2 linked regions of the Homo sapiens genome follow. The protein of the gene in region 1 purifies or fractionates together with the protein of each later gene. This does not show direct contact. Each region holds a gene or a part of one and is shown on either strand. Other genes may lie near its edges. The genes, in order: RNPC3 and P4HA1.

Region 1 (3,828 bases):
ATTCAGATTTTCAGTGAGTATATTTAAACCCATTTGTAATATTGTTACTAATTTTGTTACTAATTTTATGTAATATTGTTACTAATTAGTTCATATGAAAATGAACTAATTTTCATTTTATGTTAAAGTGAAAATTTTAACATTTTCATAAAGCTTATTTTGTCTATTTAACAATTAGGTTTCAAAATTGTAATTATCTTTAAAAACTTGCTTAAAATATTTTAATTTTATATCTTTGTTTTTTGTTTTTTAATAAGAAATGGAAACACTTTCAGTTTTCAGAAGTTATGAACCGGGTGAACCAAACTGTAGAATTTATGTAAAGAATTTAGCTAAACATGTTCAAGAAAAGGTAGGTATAAATTGATTTTTTTTCATGTAAATGAAAATAATTTGAAGGTTTTATAGTTGATGTGTTAAAGTCTGTTTGAAACTACCTTTAAGAATGTGGTTTTCTTACTGTGCTTCAGGGCATGACAAATTATTGTTTAGTATTTTCAGGTTAATTTTTTATTAAAATAATACTCTCATAGCTTGGGTTCTCTGGCAGTAAATACTGAGACAGAGTTTGTGGTATGTATTAATTTCCTAGGGCTAAGTGGCTGAAACAACAGAGATGTGTTGTCTCACAGTTCTGGAGGCAAACTGAAGTCAAAAGTGTGGCAGGATTGGTTCATTCTGAGGGCTTTGAGTGAAGGATCTGTTCTGTGCCTCTCCCATAGCTTCTGCTGGTATGCAGAAGCTGGCGAACTTTCACCTTCCTTGGCTTGTGGAAGCATCACCACAATTTCTGCCTTTGTACATAGCATACTCCCTTTGTGAGTATCTGTCCAAATTTCCCCTTTTGAAAGGCCACCAGTCATATTAGATTAAAGCCTACCTTAGTCCAGTATGACCTCTTCTACTGATGCATTGATGTATTTATTTATTTATTAAGTTTTTTTCCCCTGGCTTTGTTATTTGTCTTTTTCTTATTGAAATTCTAGGACCTTAAATATATTTTTGGAAGATATGTTGACTTTTCATCAGAAACACAGCGGATCATGTAAGTGACAGTAAAATACAATCTTCAATTATATTTTGTTTTTATCTATTACAAATTTACCACTATTTTAATCCCATCATTTTCCTTTTAGAGATAAAAATTATATGAAAAAGTTCGTCTATTCTGTTGCACAATTAATCTTTTAGATGTCTAGAATAGGAGTTGGCAAACTTTTTCTGTAAATGGGCAGATAGTAAAAATTTAATATTTTTATTTTATTGCAGACCATACAGTGTCTGTTGGAATTACTCAGTTTTGTAGTTGTATTGTGAAGGCAGCCATGAAACCTGAATGAATATTCATGGCTGTGTTCTAATAAAACTCTTTACAGAAACAGGTCGGTGATGGATTCCGACCGTAATCTTCCCTCTAAATACATGGTTCTCAGACTTTAACATTGCATAAGAATCACCTGGAAAGCCTGGCAAAACAGTTTTCTGGGCCCACCTGCAGAGAGTCTGATTTTCTAGGTTTCATGGGTAGGACTCATGAATTTGTTTCTAAAAGGCTCCTGGATGATGCTGCAGCTTCTGATCCAAAGACTATGCTTTGAAAACCATTCTTTCAATGCATCATCCAGGAATATGAAGCAATGAGTCAAAACTTTTTAGATTCTTATTCTGACAGTAGATTGTCATCTTTTAAAAGAACTGCATTGAGCAAGGCTTCCAGTTTTGTAAAAGCAAAAGAGAGGGTTGTGATTTATAAATGTTATAAAAGCTAATGTGTTAGTCTGTTTTCACACTGCTGATAGACATACCCGAGAATGGGCAATTTACAAAGGAAAGAGGTTAAATGGAAAACTCACAGTTCCACCAGGGAAGCCTGGATCCAGGCATTTCCATATATCCTCTGAAATCCAGGTGGAGGCTCCCAAACCCCAGTTCTTGACATCTGTGCACTGGCAGGCTTATCACCATGTGGGAGCTGCCAAGGCTTGACGTTTGCATCCTCTGAAGCCACCACCCAAGCTCTTTGTTGGCCCTTTTCAGCCACAGCTGCCGTGGCTGGGACACAGAGCACCAAGTCCCTAGGCTGCACACAGCACAGGGACCCTGGGCCCGGCCCACAAAATCACTTTTTCTTCCTAGTCCTCAGGTGATGGGAGGGGCTGCCATGAGACCTCTAACATGCCCTGGAGACATATTCCTCATTTTCTTGGGGATTAACATTGGGCTCATCATTACTTATGCAGATTTCTACAGCTGGCTTGAATTTCTCCTCTTTCTTTTCTGTTGCATTGTCAGACTGCAAATTTTCCGAACTTTTATGCTGTGTTTCCTTTTAAAACTGAATGTCTTTAACAGCACCCAAGTCACCTCTTGAATGCTTTGCTGCTTAGAGATTTCTTCCGACAGATACCCTAAATCATCTCTCTCAAGTTCAAAATTCCATAAATCTCTAGGTCAGGGGCAAAATGCCACCAGTCTCTTTGCCAAAACAAAGAGTTTGCTAAAACATAACAAGAGTCGCCTTTGCTCCAGTTCCCAACAAGTTCCACATCTCCATCTGAGACCACCTCAGCCTGTATTTCATTGTCCATATCATTATCAGCATTTTGGTCAAAGCCATTCAACAAGTCTAGCGAGTTCCAAACTTTCCCACATTTTCCTGTCTTCTTCTGAGCCCTCCAAACTGTTCCAACGTCTGCCTGTTACCCAGTTCCAAAGTTGCTTCCACATTTTTGGGTATCTTTTCAGCAGTATCCCACTTTACTGGTACCAATTTACTGTATTAGTCTGTTTTCACTCTGCTGATAAATACATACCTGAGACTGGGCAATTTACAAAGGAAAGAGGTTTAATGGAAAACTCAAAGTTCCACGAGGCCAGGGAAGCCTCACAATCGTGGCGGAGGGCAAGGAGGAGCAAGTCACATTTTATATGGCTGGCAGCAGGCAAAAAGAGAGAGCTCGTGCGGGCAAACTGCCATTATTTTAAAACCATCAAACCTTGTGAGACTCATGTACTATCATGAGAACACAGGAAAGACCCACCCCTATAATTCAATCACCTTTCACAGCGTTCCTCCCATGACACATGGGAATTGTAGGAGTTACAATTCAAATGAGATTTGGGGACACAGAGCCAAACCATATCAGCTAATGTTTGGAGTTAGAATTTCATTCTTTACAATACCGTATTTGTTAATTCCAAAGTATGAAAGACTCCCTGTCATATAAATTAAAAGTAAGAAGAAGTAGAAAAGGTAAGAGGCTTTTGAGTGCAGATAAAATAAAGAAGTGACTATAACTAAATTTTGTTTTAATCTTCAAGTGACACCAATACTTTACAAATCTTATCTGGCCTATGTATTTTTTTAGATAGGTATACACAAATGGAACCGTGTTTCACAATTCTCTATTTATATCCATTAGGGGCAAATACCTCTTCTTACCAGAATGCCAAAATATATTTTTTCTGCTGGCCATGCAAAATGCTAGGTCTTTTTCTTTGTTGCCATCTTTGAGTCATGATTATAAGGAAAAAAAAATTACTTTACTGCATTTTTTGATAGTTTTTTATGTATTACTTTGGTAGTCTCATAGACTAAATATTAGGTAATATTTCAGTTGCAAATTACAATCTGATTTTTCTAAGTAGCTTTTGACTATGATTTTCTCTCAAAAATTTCAAAAAATGGATACATGGAATAGTAGATCACTATATTAGGAATTTAAAAATTTGGTTTGTGTTTCTGACTTTAGATCTTAGCTATCTGCTTTGAAGAGTCACTCACTGTCTCTGGACATCACCTGTAAAATTATGGTTTTAATTAGATAA
Region 2 (3,478 bases), on another chromosome or scaffold:
TTCGAGACCAGCCTGACCAACATGGTGAAAGCCCGTCTCTACTAAAAATACAAAATTAGCCAGGCCTGGTGTTGCACGCCTGTAATCCCAGCTATTTGAGACGCTGAGGCAGGAGAATCACTTCAACCTGGGAGGTGGAGGTTGCAGTGAGCTGAGATCGTGCCATTGCACTCCAGCCTGGGCGATAGAGCAAGACTCTGTCTCAAAAAAAAAAAAAAAGTAATAACTACCGAAAGCAATTACCTGGCATTGTATACTTGGGGATAATTGTGAATTGTTCTCCATAGGGAACTGCTGTTTTCTGGTATAATCTGTTTGCCAGTGGAGAAGGAGATTATAGTACACGGCATGCAGCCTGTCCAGTGCTAGTTGGCAACAAATGGGGTAAATATTTCATATATTCTGCGAAGATAATGTAATTTTTGTTTCTTATTTTGGAACTATTATCTGTGTCTTAAAAACAAAAGCCCCCATGTTTGCTTAATATGATTTTAACATTGTACAGGATTCAGCCAAACAAGTGCCTAATCATAATACAAATTTGAAATCAGAATTTTGATGACAGATTTTATTTTTAACTATTTTTACTTATTCCAAGAAACAATGACTGACTCAAAATTGAATAAGACAATATCTTCCCCTCAAAGGGTTAATAATCTGATTGAGACATACTAATGGATTATAATGTAGTACATATTAATACAAAAATGTAAACAGAAGATGGTGACTGCCTAAGTTTGGGGAGTCTTCTTCAAAGCTTTTTCTTTAAATTTGGTCCTGAAGATAGAACAGCAGTTTTCCAAACATGTTAGATACCAGGTTCTAATGTGAGGCTCGAGTAGCACCTAATGTGCAAAATTTAAAGAGGCACTCACTCTCAGTCAGGGACATGCAAGTGCAGGACCACATTTTTAAAAAGTAAAAAGAAACAGGTAAAATTAGTTTTAATATCTATTAATTAGCCCCATGTATCCATTTCAATCTGTGTTACTAGCCACATGTTGAGTGGTTACATACAGGACATTACAAGGTTAAGGAGTGAGGCCTGATCAGGATTTTAAAATCTCCCCTTATGATTATAGTGTTTAAGAACCACTGGACTAGAATGAGGAGAGGCTAGTTGGTGAGAGAGAGTTTAGAAAGCTGTTTTCTGTTGTCTAAGTGGGAGATGATAATGGCCTGGATTAAAGCATCAGTGAAAGGGTTGGAGAGCAAATAGATTTGAGAGAGATGTAAGGAAAATTGTCAGGGTTTGATGAATAAAGTGTAGATACAAGGGTTGAAGAAGGAAAAAGAGTTAAGAATTAAGGTTCCTGCTTTAGATATTTTGACTGGGTTCTATGGTACCAGAGACAAAAAAAAAATAGAAAATTAACTGCTTTTGGGATACATTTTTACATGGTATACATTTTTTAAAGGTATTTTGGAAACTTGATGAGCATACAATAGCAATGGTTGATAAGAGAGTTGTTCCTTTAGAGTGCAAAGTTTGTGTTCATTATTGTCTTTGTATTTTGGAGGCTGTACTTTGAAAACAATACATAAAGCAATATTCTACTCTTACCTGTACCTGTATCTTAGGTCCATTTGTGTCTCATTTCAAGCCTCACATTGAACATTGGAAACTGTAAGAAATGCACATAGACTGGCAAATATACATGTGTATACATACATGTATGTACATACACGCACACAAGTGTGTACACATATGTATATAGGTATATAAAATCTGTGTTTTCAGCATTTAGCCAAGTTTTTAAGTAGCATCTGCCTTTATCCGGTTTTGGTGTTGAACTTTTATCCCATGATGAAACTTTGTTATAGACCTAGCTTTTAGAAACTAATTAAATACTGATTAGATTAAGGGGGAAAATTAATATATTACTTTTCTCTCACAGTATCCAATAAATGGCTCCATGAACGTGGACAAGAATTTCGAAGACCTTGTACGTTGTCAGAATTGGAATGACAAACAGGCTTCCCTTTTTCTCCTATTGTTGTACTCTTATGTGTCTGATATACACATTTCCTAGTCTTAACTTTCAGGAGTTTACAATTGACTAACACTCCATGATTGATTCAGTCATGAACCTCATCCCATGTTTCATCTGTGGACAATTGCTTACTTTGTGGGTTCTTTTAAAAGTAACACGAAATCATCATATTGCATAAAACCTTAAAGTTCTGTTGGTATCACAGAAGACAAGGCAGAGTTTAAAGTGAGGAATTTTATATTTAAAGAACTTTTTGGTTGGATAAAAACATAATTTGAGCATCCAGTTTTAGTATTTCACTACATCTCAGTTGGTGGGTGTTAAGCTAGAATGGGCTGTGTGATAGGAAACAAATGCCTTACAGATGTGCCTAGGTGTTCTGTTTACCTAGTGTCTTACTCTGTTTTCTGGATCTGAAGACTAGTAATAAACTAGGACACTAACTGGGTTCCATGTGATTGCCCTTTCATATGATCTTCTAAGTTGATTTTTTTCCTCCCAAGTCTTTTTTAAAGAAAGTATACTGTATTTTACCAACCCCCTCTCTTTTCTTTTAGCTCCTCTGTGGTGAATTAAACGTACTTGAGTTAAAATATTTCGATTTTTTTTTTTTTTTTAATGGAAAGTCCTGCATAACAACACTGGGCCTTCTTAACTAAAATGCTCACCACTTAGCCTGTTTTTTTATCCCTTTTTTAAAATGACAGATGATTTTGTTCAGGAATTTTGCTGTTTTTCTTAGTGCTAATACCTTGCCTCTTATTCCTGCTACAGCAGGGTGGTAATATTGGCATTCTGATTAAATACTGTGCCTTAGGAGACTGGAAGTTTAAAAATGTACAAGTCCTTTCAGTGATGAGGGAATTGATTTTTTTTAAAAGTCTTTTTCTTAGAAAGCCAAAATGTTTGTTTTTTTAAGATTCTGAAATGTGTTGTGACAACAATGACCTATTTATGATCTTAAATCTTTTTTAAAAAAATGTTTGTTTTCTGTGTGGTGTTTTTCGTATTTAAATCCGAATGTATGATGTGGCAGTAACAGGTTAACTTATGTAATTTCTTTAGTACATAGGGCTTAGGTTTATACTCTTGGTTTCCACTCACACTAATGTCACATGGTTAAGAAAAACTTAGGCTCTCTGAAGTTTCAGATATTTCATGAATCAAGATGTGCTTCCTTCAAAGAGAGCTCTAAAATACTTTACTGTGGTTATGAAGTTATTATGGGCCAGGCATGGTGGCTCACGCCTTCAATCCCAGCACTTTGGGAGGCCGAGGCAGGCGGATCACCTGAGGCTAGGAGTTCGAGACCAGCCTGGCCAACATGGTGAAACCCCATCCCTACTAAAATTACCAAAATTAGCCGGGTGTGGTGGTGCATGCCTGTAGTCCCAGCTACTTGGGAGGCTGAGGCAGGAAAATCGCTTGAACCTGGGAGGCAGAGGTTGCAGTGAGCTGAGATTGCACCACTGCACTCTAGCTTG

What was found.
Region 2: the proteins of RNPC3 (region 1) and P4HA1 purify together in Homo sapiens (affinity purification with mass spectrometry; one large-scale study listed by BioGRID and IntAct). This does not show direct contact.

What each region holds. Positions count from the first base shown.
Region 1 is NC_000001.11:103,545,991-103,549,818, forward strand, and holds part of RNPC3 (RNA-binding region-containing protein 3), read left to right. Parts: intron 1-257; coding exon 258-352; intron 353-986; coding exon 987-1,045; intron 1,046-3,828. UniProt on the Homo sapiens protein: Participates in pre-mRNA U12-dependent splicing, performed by the minor spliceosome which removes U12-type introns. U12-type introns comprises less than 1% of all non-coding sequences. Binds to the 3'-stem-loop of m(7)G-capped U12 snRNA.
Region 2 is NC_000010.11:73,006,713-73,010,190, reverse strand, and holds the end of P4HA1 (prolyl 4-hydroxylase subunit alpha-1 isoform 2 precursor), read left to right. Parts: intron 1-287; coding exon 288-384; intron 385-1,898; coding exon 1,899-1,969; 3' UTR 1,970-2,974; downstream 2,975-3,478. UniProt on the Homo sapiens protein: Catalyzes the post-translational formation of 4-hydroxyproline in -Xaa-Pro-Gly- sequences in collagens and other proteins.